Homo sapiens: one gene and its partners. The protein of the gene in region 1 purifies or fractionates together with the protein of each later gene. This does not show direct contact. Each region holds a gene or a part of one and is shown in the gene's direction. Other genes may lie near its edges.

Region 1 (4,453 bases):
CCACCGCCCTGTACCAGACAGTAGTGTAGGTGATACTGACTCCATGGCTCAGCTGCAGGAGTGAGGGCTGATTGGTCTAATGGTCCTATCCCCATTTTCGCCACATTTTCTATCTTGGACAGTCAGATGCAGAGCTCCTAGCCTGGAAAGATTGGCACCTTAGACACACAGGCTGGCAGCTGCCCACTCCCTGTGGCCCACCTGGACATTGTTTCAGTGTCATCTTTGCTGTTTTAGAAGCATTCCTTTGTCATGCAGGTAAAGTTTGAAAGCCACAAGAACGTAACTGCCTTTTCTTTTTTTGAGACGGAGTTTCGCTCTTCTCACCCAGCCTGGAGTGCAGTGGCACAATCTCGGCTTACTGCAGCCTCCGCCTCCCAGGGTCAAGCAGTTCTCCTGCCTCAGCCTCCCGAGTAGCTGAGATTACAGGCGCCCACCACCACGCCCAGATAATTTTTTGTATTTTTAGTAGAGACAGGGTTTCACCATGTTGGCCAGGCTGGTCTCGAACTCTTGACCTCAGATGATCCGCCCGCCTCGGCCTCCCAAAGTGCTGGGATTACAGGTTTGAGCTAGTGCGCCTGGCCCATAACTGCCTTTCTTATGGGCTTCTCTTGAAGCAGGAGCCACAGACAGCTAATAATGTTACCTGCCTGGTGTCTGGCTCCTTCTACTCCCCTGACCAAATGCAGGTCATTGCCATCTCTAAACCTGCCATGCTTCTGTAAAATATCTGGTAGGCCACAGGCAGTTGCCGGGAGTTCCATGTGTTAGAGCAAGAGAAAGGTGGCAGATGGACATGTAGCCAGCAGCCCCTGAGTTCTTCACTGTAGACTTGTGAGTTCTTGGGCATAAATCCTCTTCATTCACAGATGATGCTCCTCTGTTTTCCTAGTGCCTTTAACACTGAACATTTCAAACTGCTGCCAGGATCCTCTGTTCTCTCTGCTTTAAACTTGGTTTCCTTGTATCTTCTGCATATGCAAGAACCAGGAACCAGGAAGGCTATCTTTCCCTAAGCCCTTGTTCTGTAGCCACACTGGGATCCAGCATGGGGCACTGTGGGCCGTTGTTTGGCCCCTGTCATAAGTGCCAAGTACTAAGAAAGAACCTGGTCCTTTGCACTAGTAGGGTAAACAGCTGTCCTTCCATGCCAAGGGCTGTTCTTCCTAGTCTGCAGGATCCCCTGAGAGCAGCCCACAGGACCCGGAGCACCTAGTGGTCTTTGAAAGCAAGCCAGGGTCCCACAGGAACAAAGGACAGCTTTCTTTCCTGGTGGCTCTGTGCACCAAGTGTGAACTCCTCTGTATTCACTGTGCCTTTCTGGGGCCTGCTTGCTATCAGTCTCTTTAGAGCTGGCATATATTCCTGTGATTCAAGCTCTACACTAACCAGCTGTGTGCCCAAATAAGTCCCTCGCCTTCTGGGTCTTAACTTTTTCTTTTTACTTATAAAGTAAATAGCCCAGACAAGTTGAGCCAAGAATTGTCTGTCTGCAACTCTTTACCTAAGTGAGGGACCCCAGGGCAGCCAGTGCAGAGGAAAAAGCTCAGACTATCCCCTGAGCACACCAGGGTATACATGCTCCCTGCCCAGAGTACACAGAGCGCTTCCCTGCTTAGCCTCTTCCTGCTCGGAACCCACAGCTTTGCCCAGGCCAGCATTAGCACTTGAAAGGAGGAGATGACTGATGGGAAGGAGGCGTCTGGGGCAGAGCCACTTGCTGACTGGTCCCAGGAAATAAGGACAGTACCTGTACTTCTCCCACATGGGGCTTCTGGGCTGATCAGCAGGCCAGTGTGGTACCTGTGGAGCCGGGAAGCACAGATTATTGTTGAGATGCTCAGTCACAAGCTTGATTTGGCCCACATGGACATAGAGCCTTCCAGATGACTTTTAATTCAAGGTCCAGCATCAATGAACTGTGTTTTACCAGAAAATCCAGGGATGTTTTGAGTACAACTCTTCCTTGAAGCCATTTGGAGAGTGTTTGTACTCAGCAGTACCAAGGCCTGCACAAAGGCAGGGTCTCGATGGGGAGAGAAGGGTGTCTGCAGATAGTCACTGCACTCTAGGCCCCCATTTCAGTCTAAGAAATGGGAAGGAATCTCCATCCAGAGTCCTTTGCTAAACAAGGGAACCAATGCATCTAGGGAAGTCCAGCCTTTGTTCTCCAGTGGCTCTTCCCTGTGTGACCACACCCTCTAGCTGTTAGAAGGGGAAACTGCAGGTGTGGCCTGTTGCCTGTGGCAGGCTTCCACCCTGTTTTCTATAGCAGTGACTGGGAGGTTCTGCCTGAAGATCGGGAGGAGAGGAAGGATCACACCTCTCCTCAGAGAAGTAGGCTCTCTCATGGCCACATCAGCCCCACCAGCCAGCGTGGCGGGGACAGGTTTGGGGCTCTGAAACAGGTAGAGGCCATTGTGCTGGAAGGCTGATGGTAGAAGAGATGTTTCCCTTGGGATTTGCATTCCTCCTGGCTTCCCCTAATCCCTGGTTCCCCTGGAGGAGTCCAGGAGCTGGCAGAGACCATCATGCATTGGTAACCAGGGCAGAACAAGGTCAGAGATCCTGCTCTCCAGCATTTGTCCCATGCTCAGCACCACAAGGGCTCAGTAAATACTGTAAGAGCAGTGGCTGAAAGGGTGGTCACCTTGGGTCACCAGTTCTCTGAAAGAACTCTGGCTCTTTGGTTCTTTTCAAGCAGGAGAGAGTTGACAAAGGCATCGAGACAGATGGCTCCAACCTGAGTGGTGTCAGTGCCAAGTGTGCCTGGGATGACCTGAGCCGGCCCCCCGAGGATGACGAGGACAGCCGGAGCATCTGCATCGGCACACAGCCCCGGCGACTCTCTGGCAAAGGTGGGAGCCATCACTCAGCATTCCACCAGCCTTCCTCCTTCCTTTTCCCCAGGGCCTGGTTTCCAGTCTCTCTAGGATGGGTCTCTAACAAAAACAACCCATTCAATAGTTTATTTCCTGGCATGATTTAAACAGCAAGTGAAGTCTTCCAGCAGGGCGGAATTAAGGGAGCTTTATTGGCCCATTCCTAGTTGTGTTTCCTGTGTGTATTTCAAATGCATCACCAGCAGGCACCGTTGTGTTTTAGATATGCCCTTTGCAATCTGAGGTCATGGAGGTGAGTGGAAGCCTCAGAACAGTTACAGGAAAAGTCCATAGTCCACCCAAGTGCAAGAGAAAAGTGTCGGCCACCCACGGAATTGACACAGGGCCCAGCTCTGGCCTGAAGGCCATGCCAGATCCAAGGATCACTCTGGCCTCGGGCCCTCCCAGGCCTTCAACAAATGAGGCCTGAGTGTGAGGCTGGCTTGCAAATTGCCCACCTCCTGTCATATAGATACAGGGTTAGGGGCTGTGGGCAGGGCCTCTGGACCCACCGTGTTCCGGATGGGGTCTTTGGGAAGGAGGATGTGGCTGTCCTGTTGGAATCTCCCTGTGCTGATCTTGGCTACAGAAACAGTTGTGGTTTTTAGTAGAGGGCGTCCCCAGCTAACTGCAAAGGAGAAGCAGCCACTTACATATACATGTGTTGACAGCTTCTTTGTCTACTTCCTTTCTTCATTCTTCCATCTTTTCTTTTTTTGAAGAATAAGATGTCTACAGCCCTGAATAAAATCCTTACATATATGATAACACTTATAAAAGGTTTTTGTTCGTTCTGTAAAGGACAAACTTAAACTCCTAGTGCAAATATTTGAGCCCTTTCTTTTTTTTTTTCTTTGAAACAGGGGTCTCTGTTGCCCAGGCTGGAGTACAGTGGGTTGATCTTGGCTCACTGCAACCTCTGCTTCCCAGGCTGAAGTGATTCTCCAGCCTCAGCATCCCAAGTAGCTGGGACTACAGGCGTGAGCCACCAACGCCCAGCTAATTTTTGTATTTTTTTGTAGAGTCAGGGCTTCGCTGTGTTGCCCACGCTGGTCTTAAACTCCTGAGCTCAAAACAATCCACCCGCCTCAGCCTCCCGAAGTGCTGGGATTACAGATGTGAGCCACCGCACCCGGCCAAGCCCTTTCTTTCCTTCCTGTTTGTTCTAATGGCATGCCAAGCCTATTGGAGGCTCAAAGAGAGGGTATACAGTTATTGGAATCATTTGGTTGCTTTTGACAAAAGAGGTGATTTAAAGAGGGAGTCATAGTCTTGTCTAAAATTTCAGTCATTACTGGCTATTTTTAAAAATTGTAAAAGTAATCCATTCCACTGTAACAAGTCAAATAGTTAGAAAAGTTAGTAATCATCTCCTTCCCACTCTAAGGCCACTCTTTGAGCAACTAATTTTAATTTGCTTTTTTGTATCTGTTTACAGTTTGCAGAGGTAAATTTAGATCCAAATCTCAATACAGGGGACCAGACTAGTAAGCTTCATCCCAAAGACCAGCAAAGCACCTTACAAAGAAATAATCCCACCAAGGGAACTCTTTCACTTCCTGGCCCTT
Region 2 (5,205 bases), on another chromosome or scaffold:
TATACCTCTTGAGAAAAAGGCAACAAAGAAGGACGGCTGTCATGGGTTTGTACCTCATGTAGAGCTGCCTTGGAAGCAGAGCAATTTCAGTTTCCGAGGACTCTGGGATTGGACCAAGCAGGCAGATTTTGTGCCATGAGGGAGCCCAAAAAAAGCTCATTCAGTTGGAAAAAAAAGGAACCCATTGAGGCCATTTCAAAAGCTGGTGCTGGATAAGCTCATGGGAAGAGGTAAGGCTGAGATTTCAATATCCAGGGCCTGAAACTGGACATTTCTAGATGTTAGGCTTGTTTGGCTTGGATGACTAAGTATTCGTAAAGAAGAAATCGGTAAAAGAGCAGGTCTGGTGAGTGTTTGTTGTCTGTGATTGCTTTTAGAAAACAGAGAAAATCAAAATGATTTAGAAGTTGGTACAAAGGCAGAGAGGTACCATTTTTCCCAGAAAGGAAGGAAAACAAGTGGAGGGCCTTTAAACTCTGAAGATAGCTCTGCTTTGCTAAGAATTGTACAGCAAAGTACAGGCAATTTTTCCATTTTATGCACCCCTTTTGCCGCATTAATACTAATATCAGTGGTTAGCAAAGCAAATATAATAACTGCTCTCCCCAGTGGACCCAGTGATTGAGGCTTCCACTCCTCTGGCCTGCAATCGAACTGTTGGAAGGAGATTTTCCATATTTCTTTCTACCTCCTCACTAGCATTTTGATCAACAGAGCCCCATTCTCCCAGTGGAGAAAAACAAGGCACAGAGTCACGTCTGTGGAGCTACCACTGGCGAATTGGGAGAGAAATTAATTTGGGCCCCTGGGCTTGAAGTAAAAAGGAAATTTCGTTTAGAAGCCCTTCCTGCCTAATGTGGTCCATCTCTGGTGGCTGCTTCTACCCCAGGATTTGGGGGGCAGGGCTCTTTTTACCACCACCAGAGGCCCCAAACACTGAACCCATTATGGCACGTGCTTCCATATGTATTTAAAACGTAAAAATACAAAGCCATAAAAGAAGTGTAAGAAAATCCAACACAGTACCACCCTCCATTGAAATATCAAATATCAAATTCTTTCTAAAAATAAATGTGGGTCCCCCTCCCATATCAGTGCCCTGAGCAAAAGCATTGGCAGTGGAATCTGTAAGTCGGCAGCAACTGGGGGGCACCCCACGTTTATACATACTTGACACTGGGTTCTTTTATCTCAGTTGATGATCAACCCCCTCAGTACAAAGGTTCCCAGGCAGGAGAGCATCTCCCTCTTCGCTGCGGAATTCGCAGGAGAAGGGAAGTAAGATTACTCTCAGATATGGGACTTCTTGGGGGAGGCGGCAAAATCGTTTTTCCTGCTCACATTCTTGGTCCTCTAGAACGGACCAGTGATTTAAATCAGACTTGGAGCTACTCGGGGCTGAGGTGATGCCTGCCCTAAGAGAGGGGTTAAGGGTGGGGGTGGGAGGGTCCCCAAGGGCTGAGACAGCATCTCCCCTTTAGATTCAGGGATCCTGGGGAACACACTGCTTCCCGCTTAGACTAGGCCTCTTGAGGGCTGAGATAACGCTCCGCTAAATCGTGGAGTTTTCTAGAGCCTGGGATACTGTCTCGCTCTCAGATCTGAGGCTCCCTGGGACAGGTGCGCTACCTCGCCTTCAAATTCCAGCCTTTGGGGGCAGGCCTGCTTTTATGTGCCCGATCAAGGGCTCCTGGGGTGGGGCTGGGGGACAAGGACCTTCCCTCCCTCTCAGATTTGGGGCTCACCAGGGCTGAGATGGCGTCTCCCCTCAGACTCTGGGCTCCCTGGGGTAGGGGCAGGGTCCCGCCCTCAGAATCAGCTTCCCAGGACAGGAGCTGTGTGTCTCTGCCTCCCTTCGCGTGGGGCAAGGGGCTGCGGGACCAGCGGCCTCTCTTCTGGCAGGAGGGGGGGTTCCCCGGAGGCCCTGCCCCCTTCGTGACATGCTCGAGGTGTCCGGTGACCGAAACACTCTTAGCTGGGTGCAGGGTGCGGCTCAGGGCGTGGTCACCGGGGGCTACTTAGGGCCGCCGGTGCGGGGGACGACGCAAAGGTTAACTGCGAGCTGCCGGGCACTCAGCGCGGGTCATGGCGTGGATACTGGACTGCCTTTTCGCCTCGGCCTTTGAGCCCCGCCCCCGCCGTGGTGAGTGGGGCCCACCGAGTCGGGGGGCTGGGGTGCTCGGCCGGGGGCGGCCGGCGGCTGCAGCCCCCTCTGGGCGCCCTGGGGCTTGGCTGGTCGCCCCCTTGCCTCCCTTCCTGCTGGCTTTTAGCTAATTGTTCCTGGCTCAAGGGACTGCCCCGTCGAGGCCCCGCATAAATCACCAGCTTTGCCGGGAACCGCGAGCAATCGCGCTAATGGCTCGGCGGTACGCGGGACGAGCGCGTGGGCGGAGTCGCTGGCTCAGCCGCCGGCAGGGACAGCCAGAGCCTTGGGGCCAGACGCGCAGGAGCGGCGTCCCGCAACTCAAGGACCCTCAAGGCCCAAGGATGAATGTCCCTGACAGGGCAAGCCAGGCCCCAGGGACCCTGAAGGAGGCGGGTATTCATTTTGCCTTGAAGTTCGTCCCCTTGTCTCAATCTCAAACACAGAATATCAGCAATGGACCCCCTAGAGTCGTCGAATTTAACCCCTTCATTTAAGAGATGATGACACTGAAGATGGGAAAAGCCTGCCCAAGGTTACCCAACAGGTTGGCAGCATACCTGGGTCAGCTTAGGCTCTGCCAGCTGCCCACTGCCCCAGACTGCCCAGTAGTGGACCCCTGCGGTCTTTAGTCGGGTTCTTTCCTTGGGTACTTGAGATCAATGCTTGGTTTCCCTATTTCTGTGGAATTGAGGACACAAGTGTGCAAAGATCACAGCACCGGCATATGTGGGTCACATTTCACCCCTTTTCGGGAACTGCTTCTACAAAGTACATTTTGACAACTGATTATATTTTCATCCTTAAAGTTTCAGGAGACTGATATTTTCTTTTTGACATACCCCAGGACCCCCACCCACACTGTCCTTCACTCCCCCTTGATAATAAGCCCCACCCCCTTCAGGCTGCCACCTGCCCCCACAGCCACCTGTTTTTTCATAGTCTCCACCTCCAAAATCTATATTGGTGAGAGTGCGTCATTGGGCACCAGCCATAGACCAAACCTGGGGTTGTCTCCTCTTTCCTCTGTCCCTTCACAGGCGGGGGAGGGGAAGCAGGGAAAGGAGGGGCCTCAGCAACTTAATTCAGCAGAGACCTGTTTTTAGTTCTTGCCAGCCCCAACACCCTGCTGAGAACCATCCCAGGAGTTTGACCTCCTGCTGAAAGACTACAGCTTGCTTAGGCAGTTCAAGTACAGCCTCAGGCCAGCAACAAGATCTCTGAGAAGGAAAAAGATCTGCATACACACAGAGTTTAATTTTTTCTTTTGCATATTTTTAAGGTTTATATGATCCTGGTGAATCAAAAATATAAGGGAGTTTTATAAGATGTCTTTTAAGGCCTTACTGCTCTAACAGTATACCCTGAAAAAGGGGGTGGGGGAAACATTTCACAGTTGCTTGGACTAGAAGGTTGTCATGTGACTCCAATGAGATCAAGGACATGAAGGCTCCTTTATGAGTAACCACATAGGAGGGAGTCCATATTACACCAGGAAGCCCATTCCCATCTAAAAACAGCAATGTCTATTAGAATTAGAAGGCTTTTCTTTAAACTGAACCCAAATCTATGTCCTGGGAACTTCCACCTTCTGGCCCTGGCATTGACTTCCATGGTCCTCCTTCCTAGGAAACAGTGTCAGCTCTCCCCATTGTCCCATCCCCTACTCACCCTGTTCTTACCTAGGCCAAACTTCCCCAGTTTCTTCATCTATTTAACATGTGACATAGCTTCAAGGCCCCTACCCATGTCTAGCTGCTTTTCTTTGAACATGCTCCAAGTTATAAATGTCCAGTGACCAGGCCAAAAGAGGCTTTCCAGCTGTGCCCCTATAAATATAGTCCTGGAAAGCTGACTTTCCCTCTTTTAGAAGCCTACACCACACCCAAGGTACACACATACGTAGTCATAAACACACCCATAACATACACATTACCACACCTATGCATGCCCATTTGCAAAGCCACGAACACACACACACACGCTTCACATGCACCACATACTTTCCACACACAACACAATATACTCACATCACCTGTGTATGCACCACTCACAAATCCCATGCACAGCCACACAGTTCACACAAAGACTTTATTCACATTGAATTACTTTCAACGAAAGCTACTCTTTTTCCTTAAGTAAACCCAAGTTCTTTTTGGAGTCTCCATTCTGTATTTGGTGTTTGAACTCAAGTGTAAGACCTTATATTCGCTGCTGCATTTCTAGTCTGGTGGTACCTGTTCCCCAACATACCCCTGCAGCACACCACTGCCTACATCAGCTCTATTACTCAAACAACAGCAGCTGATATATGTGAAGCTCTTCCCAAATGTTGGGCCCTTAGGCTCAATTGCTTACATGTATAATCTCACTTAAGTCACAGGGCATCACTTTGAAATAAATAATCTTTGGGTAGTTTTTTGACTGGGCAACAGCTCATTTCATTGCACTCCCCCTGAGAAATGCTGTACAATGTGAAGGGTAACTTTGTGGGTAACTATTGATATTCTGCAGGGCTATAATTGCTTTGGTGCCTCCCTTTGAATGTCCTTCAGAAGTCTTCAGGAGTCAGAGATGGGGTTGGGGGAGGAAGCTGTCAGCTGACTGGACAGAACTGGGGCAGTATCTAAATGTTCCTTCACCCCCATTCCCCTTGCCCAAGAGATAGCTGGCATGTGACAGCAATTTTTTTTTTGAGGGGCAGGTTTATTTTGTCTTCATTAGAATATCATCACTCTTTTGTTGATGTTTGCTATTTTTTTTTTTGTTCAACTCTTTTTTAAAAAAATTTACTTTAAGTTCTGGGATACATGTGCAGAACGTGCAGGTTTGTTACATAGGTATACATGTGCCACGTTGGTTTGCATCAGAGAGATTTTTCAGGGCGACAACGGGCAATGGGCAACCATAGGAAGGCACTTGGGAGAGGCATCACTGAGGTCTGGGAGGAATGAGGGCCCAGAAAGGCCTTCTTTCCCAGGGAAAGAGACAGCACAATTGACCCACTTGAAATTCTCTCCCCAGTTCACTCTTGGCATTGGATTTGGCCTCAAACAATTGGA
Region 3 (4,453 bases), on another chromosome or scaffold:
ATGCAGGGCTGGCCCACTGTCCAGTAAATGCAGCCTTCATCTGGAGCAGAGAGGCCTCCCTGCTCCTGGATTTGGGTGGCGCTCTGCTTGAGAAGGACTTGGGGTACTCTCTTTTCCAAACTGCCTGACAGCTCCTGGCAAAATGCCCTGCCCAGCCAGATAGGAATTGAACAAATCACTCCTTTGCTGCCATGCTGGGGGCTGGAATGGGCTTGCCCCTCCACCAGCCCTCCCCTGAGGGGACTCCTCTGACTTCTTGTGGCCTCCAGGGCTCGGTGAAAGACCAGTTGAAGGCTTACGGTGCTCTGACAGAGAGCGTGACCCGAAAGTACACGCGGCAGATCCTGGAGGGCATGTCCTACCTGCACAGCAACATGATTGTTCACCGGGACATTAAGGGTGAGCAGGGCCAGGATACATGGAGTCCCCAGGACCTGGGTTCAAGTCTACCATTGAGTGCCTGCAGGGGCCAATCACTTAACCATTCTGAACTTTCTGAAAAGTGGGACCCCAGTTGTTTCCCTGAGGAACTGGTGAGATTGGTTGAGCAATATGAGAGAATATTGCCAAGTTCCCTCTACATGTGGGCCTTGGAGATGGTCATTTTGTGCGGTAGATCTGAGACTCCCCTTTGCTAAATCCTTTGCCCTTTGCAGTTCATGTCTAATTCAGTGGTAGCCCTGCCCTCTCCAGCAGCTCTCAGTGACCCGGGGGTGGGGAGGATGGGAGAAAATGCAAGAGGGTCCAGGGTTGCAGCCTCTGCCCTTTCATGCCTCAGGAGCCAACATCCTCCGAGACTCTGCTGGGAATGTAAAGCTGGGGGACTTTGGGGCCAGCAAACGCCTGCAGACGATCTGTATGTCGGGGACGGGCATGCGCTCCGTCACTGGCACACCCTACTGGATGAGCCCTGAGGTGATCAGCGGCGAGGGCTATGGAAGGAAAGCAGACGTGTGGTGAGCACTGGGACATGCAGAACCCATTCTTCCACCCAGGCCATAGTGGCCCCCCATTAGAAACACACCCTGGGGACTTTGTGGTGTGGCAGGAGGGAGTGTGCCCAGGGCCCAGGCTGCAGTGTGTGCAAGGGTATTATTGGGTGCAGTAGCACACACACCACATGGGTGGTGCTCAAAGCACACTCCATTAGAGCTGGGAACTTAGGCCATGGAAAACATCCCTCATGTTTGCTAAATCTCTTAAGGAAGCAGGATCCACTCTGAAGGCCTGAAGGCCTGGACCAGTCTCTCAACAGGAGCAGGCTTCTGTCCCTTCTCCTAGCACTCAAGACAGTTTGCACTTGCTCGACATAACCTTGTGTCTATCCTCTGAAATGGCCCCTAAGTCAGGAGAGCTTCTCCCCTTGGAAAGCTATTGTGGTGGGCTGAATAATGGCCCCCCCAAAGATGTCCACTGCCTAATCCCTGGATCTGTAAATGTGATTGTATATAGCAAAGGGCCTTTGCAGATAGGATTAGGTTAAGGGTTTTGAGATGGATGGATTATCCTGGATTAAGGGTCCTTACAGAAGGGTCTCAAGAGGTCAGAGTGGCTAATAGGAGGTGAGACAATGAAAGCAAGAGGTTGGAGTAATACAAGGAGGGGACCATGAGCCACGAAATGCAGGTGGCCTCTAGAACCCAGGAAAGGCAAGGAAACAGGTTCTCCCCTCAGAGCCTCTGACAGGAACCAGCCCTGCCGCCACCTTGACTTTAGCCCTGTGAGACTGATTTTAGACCTCTGACCTTCAGAACTGTAAGATGATACATTTGTGTTGTTTTCCTGCCTCTAAGTTTGTGGTCATTTGTTAAGAGCAGCTATGGGTAGCTAATACAGTTATTGTAGAGTTCTTTCTGTCAAGTCTAAGTGATTCTCTTTTTCCTTATTTCAAGAAGTACCCAGGTGTGTGGTGAGTGTAGGTCCATGAAGCCCACGTGGACAGACATCCAAGCTGAGGTATCCCTCAGCTTGGCCTGTCCTGCACCTCAGCTTGCTGTGAGAAAGGCGCCTCTTTCTGCAGTGGTGGGCAGGACAGCTGGGAGTCCAGGGCTGGCTGAGGGGTGACACGGGGTTCTCTCTTTCCAGGAGCCTGGGCTGCACTGTGGTGGAGATGCTGACAGAGAAACCACCGTGGGCAGAGTATGAAGCTATGGCCGCCATCTTCAAGATTGCCACCCAGCCCACCAATCCTCAGCTGCCCTCCCACATCTCTGAACATGGCCGGGACTTCCTGAGGCGCATTTTTGTGGAGGCTCGCCAGAGACCTTCAGCTGAGGAGCTGCTCACACACCACTTTGCACAGCTCATGTACTGAGCTCTCACGGCCACACAGCTGCCGGTCGCCCTTTGCTGCATGGCAGGGGGCTGCTGCTGGGCTCAGTGAAGTTGCTGCTTCTCCCAGGCAAGGCTGTGGACCATGGAGTGGCAGCCCAGCCAGCGTCGGTCTGTGCCCCTTCCGCCACTGGGGCTCAGAGCCGGGGTGGGGTGGCTGCAGCCTCAGGACTGGGAGCCCCCAGCCTGTCAGATCCAGGAGCTCCAGTGTCCTGAGCTCAGCGTGGAGGGGTAGGGGCTGGGAACAGTGTGCAAGGCAGCCGTGGGCCCCACCCTCGGGGATGTGTCCTGACACTGCAATTGGCACCGAAGCCCAGAGGGTCTGGGGGCACAAGACTGACGCCAGGGTATGAAGAGTGTTATTTTCATTCAAAGTGTTATTTTGTTTTTCCTTCCAATGTCTGGAGACCACCAGGGCATCTCTGGGCTGGATGAGCTCCCACAAGCCTGAGGGAAAGGCCAGCACTCGCTAGCAGTGGCAGGCAGAGGCCCAGGCTGCCGTCCCCTAGAGTCCCAGGTTGGCTCTGCCAGTCCTGTCCTTTACCAAAGATGAATGAAGCAAATGTCATGCTGCCTTATTCAGGGAAGGAGGAGCCTGTCCTGCCTGTGGCCATGACCCTGCCTCTCCCAGGCAGGGGCCCGCGATGTGGAACTGCTGCCACTGAGGGGGGATCCAGTTTTGTCAATGCAGTTGTCTCTGTTTTACAAGTTGGAGTCACTCTTATGCTGTACCCAGTTTCTAAACTGGAGACTGTGTGTGCCCTCTGGGCTCTGAGTACCCCTGCTTTGGGCTTGGGCCTAGGCTGCATTGAAAAGAGCTGAAGGTTGTGGCCTTTGCGCTCCTGGCCCAGCCTTTGTTCCCCACTGGAGCAGAAGGGGAGATGGACGACACGGTCGGGGCATCTGGCCTGGCCAGTGCCCTGATCCCAGAGAGCCCGAGGAGGTGTCTCAGGCTGCCTGAGTCGTGACCTGCTAGGCCAGAGCCCACTCCATCTGGTAGAAGGGAAAGCCCATATGCTACCACCAGCTGTGTCCAAAACCGCCAGCTCTGTTCTTCCTCAGCCAGCCTCGCCCATCCCCTTGAGGTCTCAGCCCCTTTCCCTTGTAGCTCCTCCCCTGGAGGGGGAATGGCAGCAGGGGTTGGGGAAACAGCATCTCCAAGCAGCTTAGAGTTGGCCATATTTACCTCAGCCTGGGCGCTGGTCCTTTCTTCCGGCCCCTCCCCTCCAAAATGTGCCTATTGCTAGAGCTCCTCCCTCTCAACACCCAGTTTCCTTGGGAGTTGTCATTAAAGGAAAAAAAAAAAAAAAAAAGCCAGTGCCCAGGGATGGGCATCTCCAGGGAGCTGGGGATTAGTGCCAGGCAGCCCTGCCAGCCATGCCTACATCCCCATGGGCACAGAACAAGCCAAAGCCTTCGTTGTATGTTGACGATGCACTTTTATGAATGTAGTTTCTATCGCTGTTTTTAGCCTTTTCACATCATGTAATGTGAGGCCTTGTACTTGTTAATTTATATCTCAGATCATATTTGATGGTTTTTATATATATCAATTCTAGACTGTTACAGGTGACGGACGCCTCAAGAGAGAGAAGAGAAAATGAAAGCAGCTGGTTTTGCAGAAGTGTGTGTCGCATGCGCCAGTTGGGCCTGGACCCTCCTGTGTCCATCCCTGTTCCCCCAGGGGCTCTATCAGCCCCTGTACCCCACACTGCCCTCTGAAGACAACACAGGCTCCTGCTTCCACCTCGGCCCTTGCCCAGGGTGGGGCCTGGCCCTCATCTTGACCAAAGCTGCTGTGTGGCAGCTCGGCCTCTCTACGACCCCATCTTGGTGGCTGCACACTCTTCCTGGCCCGCACCCCCATCCCCAGTCCCTGTTCCCCAAGAGGATACAGAGCACGGTGCTGGCTGACTCAACTGTGCGTCCCAGGTTCAGGGTCTTACAGAGCTCCACCCCCTGGGGTCTTACCTCACTGGGAATGTGTTTTGAAAATGAATTTGAAGACAAGCCAACAAACCCTGCACTCCAAAAAAGCAAAACAGACCCTAATTTTTTTGTGCCAAAAACTGTGGACATGCTGGCTCAGCATCCTCAGGACCAAGTTGTTGCTTAATTTATT
Region 4 (3,720 bases), on another chromosome or scaffold:
GACCAGGTCCACAGTCTCCACAGTACCTGCTCCCAAGAACTTTCTGTACTTCTGAGGGGACAGATAAAGGGGCCTGGAACAGGGCTGCCAACCGGTCTGCCTGCCCCACCCCCTTTTCCGGTGCCACGCTGAGGTGGGGGCCGACTGGGTCTCTCTACTGACATTGTTCCAGGCATAGTGCTGCAGCCAGGGGCTGGATGCAGGCCTTCAGTGTGAAGAGAGGACCCCTCCCCTTCTGGCCTGGGCTCAGGACTTTTGGCCTTGGTCCTGCTGAGACGCCAAGGTTGGGAGAAGCCCCAGGCCCAGCCTCTCTGAGCCCAGGAGCTAGTGCATTTGAGACTCTCAGCTCTCGAGCCCAGGAGTTGGAGGTCTGCTCTCAAGAGGTAGCGGAAGGAGCCCTGCACGCTGTGCTCACGCCCACCCCTGCCGCGTAGCTGCCTCTGCTTCTGCTACCCATGGGCCAGCATCTGTCGAGGTGCAGTAGCCTGAGAGCCAGCCTTTCTCTGCCATGGACAGAGCCAGGCCAGGGGATCGGGGCTCAGCGGGGGAGCCAGAATCCAGGAGGTGGGGTGAACAGTGGCTTCCTGTCCACCAGCCCCCATGGAAGGAGAGCCCACATCTGCCCATCCACTGCTGGGTGGGCACAGCTTGGGAATCAATGCCTGGCCCCACGGCAGGCACAGCTGCTGCTTCCATCCTGGGCTGGGAGGAAAGGAGCCCAGCCTGTGTGGGGCAGTGGCTGACTTCTGCTTCTCTGCCTGCTCCCTCCTGAGGCCTGGCCCAGTCCCTCGCTAGCCCCCCACAGCACTGGGCCACAGGCAGCCAGGCATCTCCATCCTCAGGCCCATCCCCTTTGGGTGAGAGAAAGGGCCTCGGATGACCAGGACAGGGCGAGCATGAACTCTGCAGTCAGCTGGACCAGGCTAGGAATTCAGGCTCTGCCAGGCATTGGCTGTATGATCTTAGACAAGTCACTTAAACTCAGCCTCAGTTTTCTCATCTGTGAAGTGGGGAGAAGGAGGTCCCTGACAAAGAGGGGTTGCTGGCAGACCTAGGCTTGGGAAGTCACTCTCACAGGCCCTCCTCCCTCTGCCCTCGGACTCCCTCCTGGGGATCCCCCTTGGGACACCCCACCACCACTTCCCTCGGTGCCTGTTAAGTGCTTTGACCCTCCAATATTGGTCACTGGCAAGCAGTGCAGAGACCCCAGCACCTCCCATACCCCAGCCCCAGCCCCCAGCCGCAGCCGCCCACAATGGGGGCTTCTCACAGCTGAAAGGGCTCATTCAGCCACCATGCAGCAGCCCGGACAATCTGGAGAAGAAAATAAACATTTCTTTCCACTGTTGGGATTGGCCACTCGACAGTGCCCCGGGCAGCTCGGGTTTCCTGGGGCTGCGAGGCCGCAGGGTGGGGGTACAGGAGCTCCAAGGAAGCTGCTGGGGGGTCTGAGGGAGTGCTGAGGGCAGGTACTTCCCCCACCACCCCGGAGGAGGGGTGGTGGCCCTGAGGAAAGAGGCTGGAGGGGATGGTGGCAGGTCCAGGGAGGCCCAGCCCAGCGCCCTGCAGCCCGCGTGAGCTCTGAGGGGCACAGTCCTGCCGTTGTATCCTGCGGTCCCCATTTGTTTCCTTCGTCTTGAGAATGGGGTTCCCATCAGGCGGCCAGCACCCACTTCCACCCCACCCATCTCAGCTGTGCTGACGTGCCCAGCACCTGCAACAGGACCTCTCCCCCCGAGGGGCTCCCCAGATGAAAACTGGCAGCCAGGTGCCTCGGAGGCTCTCGGCCTCAAGGGGCCGGGACAGCCAAGTGACCTACTAGGGAACATCCCAGATGTCCCAGAAGGCCCCCGCCACCCAGACTGCTGTCCCCACATCTTCTTACCTTAAGCCAGGAGCATCACTCCGTTCGGATCCACGCCCAGGGCCAGAGTACGCTGCTGAGGGAAACATACCCCAGCTGACTTGGGAAGACCCCAAAGCCCCGAGAAGTTCCAAGTCCCAGCCGAAGTCACACACACCTCAGGCTCATAGCTCTCCGTCCTCAGCCAAGCCTCGGCGTGGCAGGCAGAGCCCACTCCGGCTAGCACCGGCCCTTATCCTTTGGTGGGTGACACAGAGGGGTTGCTGGGCTGGACAGACTGCACCTCTGGACCACTGCTGGGGGCTCATCCACCTCCCCCGGCTGCCAGAGTAGAAGGGAGGCCCTGCACCAGGGCCTCAACTTGGCAGGGCCCTGAATGAGCCAGTTCTCCTGGGTACCCAGAGTAAGAGACACCACAGCCACAGTGGCCTTGCAAAGCCTCATGGACCCCTGCTCTGTGCCCAGTGCCATTCTAAGTACTCGATGTGAATTAACTGAATCCTGATGAACTGTTATCGTCTCATGTTTTATATGGGGAAACTGATGCGCAGAGAGGTTAAGTGACTTGCCCAAGGACACAAAGCTAGTAAGTGTCCAAACCAGGATAACTGTCCGGCTCCAGAAGCCACACAGTAAGCCTTGATCCTGTGCTGCCTCAAAGACGGGACAGCTCCCTCTCAAGTACGTGTTGGGGCTCAGGACCAGAGGCCCTAGGATTGTGTGCCAGGTCCAATGTGCTGTGTGACCCTGAGGGAAGTGCCTCACCCTGTCTGGGCCTCAGTTTCCCCATCAAGGGTGTTAGACTCAATCCCTGAGCCCCTTTGAATGCTGAGGTTTTGGGGGTCTGTGATGACAAAAGTTGGGGACAGAGGATGGAACACCCTTGCCTTGGAGCCCATTGAGAAGCCACATTCCTGGGGGAGCAGGGGCAGAGTCTGGGCTGGACACTGTGACCAGGTTGGGGTCTGGGTCCCCAAGTTTGTCTGACTGCTGTCTCACTTTGCTGCCAAGGCAGGTTAGGGTGGCATCCAGTCACTGTGTGGCCACGAGTCGGCTCCAGAGACACAGGCCCAGGGTGAGGTGGAGGCCAGAGCTCCTGTGAACTCAGTGCCCACAACCCAGGTGTGAGCGCACAGAACCTCCGCGTGCTGCACCTGGGCAGGAGAGGCACGTGTGTCCCCAGCAGAGGCCTTGTGATGAGAACCAGTCCTTTCTCTGCCACAGAGACTCAGTCTTGCTCTCTCTCTGCCTCCATTTTCTTGTCTTCAAAAGCGGGTTCCAACTCCCAGTCTCACACGGTCATTGGAGCCCTTTACACATCCACGGCCTTCCCAGCTGTTAACATGGGCCGGTGGGGAGAGGAACCTGCCTGGGCAGGGCTGCTGGGAGGCCTGAGCTGACTCTGCCCTCAGCCCCACCACCGCATCCTAGGCCTCTCCTCTGCGAGGCTGGGAAGGAGGATTTAAAAAGAAGAATAGACCCCCTCCTCTGTTCTGTTGCTGCTGTGGGGGGGCTCCCATGGCCCCTCTTGGCCCGGGGCACGCTCCAACCAGCTTCCCGGCAGGTCTGTGTTCGGAGTCCTGGCGGGGGAGGCCCCGGGCAGCCTAGGGCAGGAAGAGGAGAGCCAGGTCTAGAACTAGGGGTCCCCCAGATGGGCCTTGGGAACCAGAGCCCAAGGTCATTCTTCAGGAAGCCCTCCTGGGGTTGTCTCGAGCTGGAACTGACCTCTTCCCTGCTGTCCTCCAGGCACCTCGGAACTGAACCCATTCTCCGACCCCCGCCAGTTTGACCGCTCCTTCCCCACGCTGCCAACCCTCACGGAGAGCCGCTTCCCAGACCCCAGGATGCATTATCCC

The links.
Region 2: the proteins of SUFU (region 1) and ARHGAP36 purify together in Homo sapiens (affinity purification with western blotting, with the first as the bait; one study listed by BioGRID). This does not show direct contact.
Region 3: the proteins of SUFU (region 1) and MAP3K3 purify together in Homo sapiens (affinity purification with western blotting; one study listed by BioGRID). This does not show direct contact.
Region 4: the proteins of SUFU (region 1) and RUNX3 purify together in Homo sapiens (affinity purification with western blotting, with the first as the bait; one study listed by BioGRID). This does not show direct contact.

The regions. Positions count from the first base shown.
Region 1 is NC_000010.11:102,594,433-102,598,885, forward strand, and holds part of SUFU (suppressor of fused homolog), read left to right. Parts: intron 1-2,704; coding exon of another isoform or gene 2,705-2,707; coding exon 2,708-2,861; intron 2,862-4,453. UniProt on the Homo sapiens protein: Negative regulator in the hedgehog/smoothened signaling pathway. Down-regulates GLI1-mediated transactivation of target genes. Down-regulates GLI2-mediated transactivation of target genes. Part of a corepressor complex that acts on DNA-bound GLI1.
Region 2 is NC_000023.11:131,056,302-131,061,506, forward strand, and holds the start of ARHGAP36 (rho GTPase-activating protein 36 isoform 1 precursor), read left to right. Parts: upstream 1-2,044; 5' UTR 2,045-2,085; coding exon of another isoform or gene 2,086-2,143; intron 2,144-5,205. UniProt on the Homo sapiens protein: GTPase activator for the Rho-type GTPases by converting them to an inactive GDP-bound state.
Region 3 is NC_000017.11:63,691,464-63,695,916, forward strand, and holds part of MAP3K3 (mitogen-activated protein kinase kinase kinase 3), read left to right. Parts: intron 1-269; coding exon 270-399; intron 400-778; coding exon 779-956; intron 957-2,085; coding exon 2,086-2,314; 3' UTR 2,315-4,453. UniProt on the Homo sapiens protein: Component of a protein kinase signal transduction cascade. Mediates activation of the NF-kappa-B, AP1 and DDIT3 transcriptional regulators.
Region 4 is NC_000001.11:24,902,557-24,906,276, reverse strand, and holds part of RUNX3 (runt-related transcription factor 3), read left to right. Parts: intron 1-3,610; coding exon 3,611-3,720. UniProt on the Homo sapiens protein: Forms the heterodimeric complex core-binding factor (CBF) with CBFB.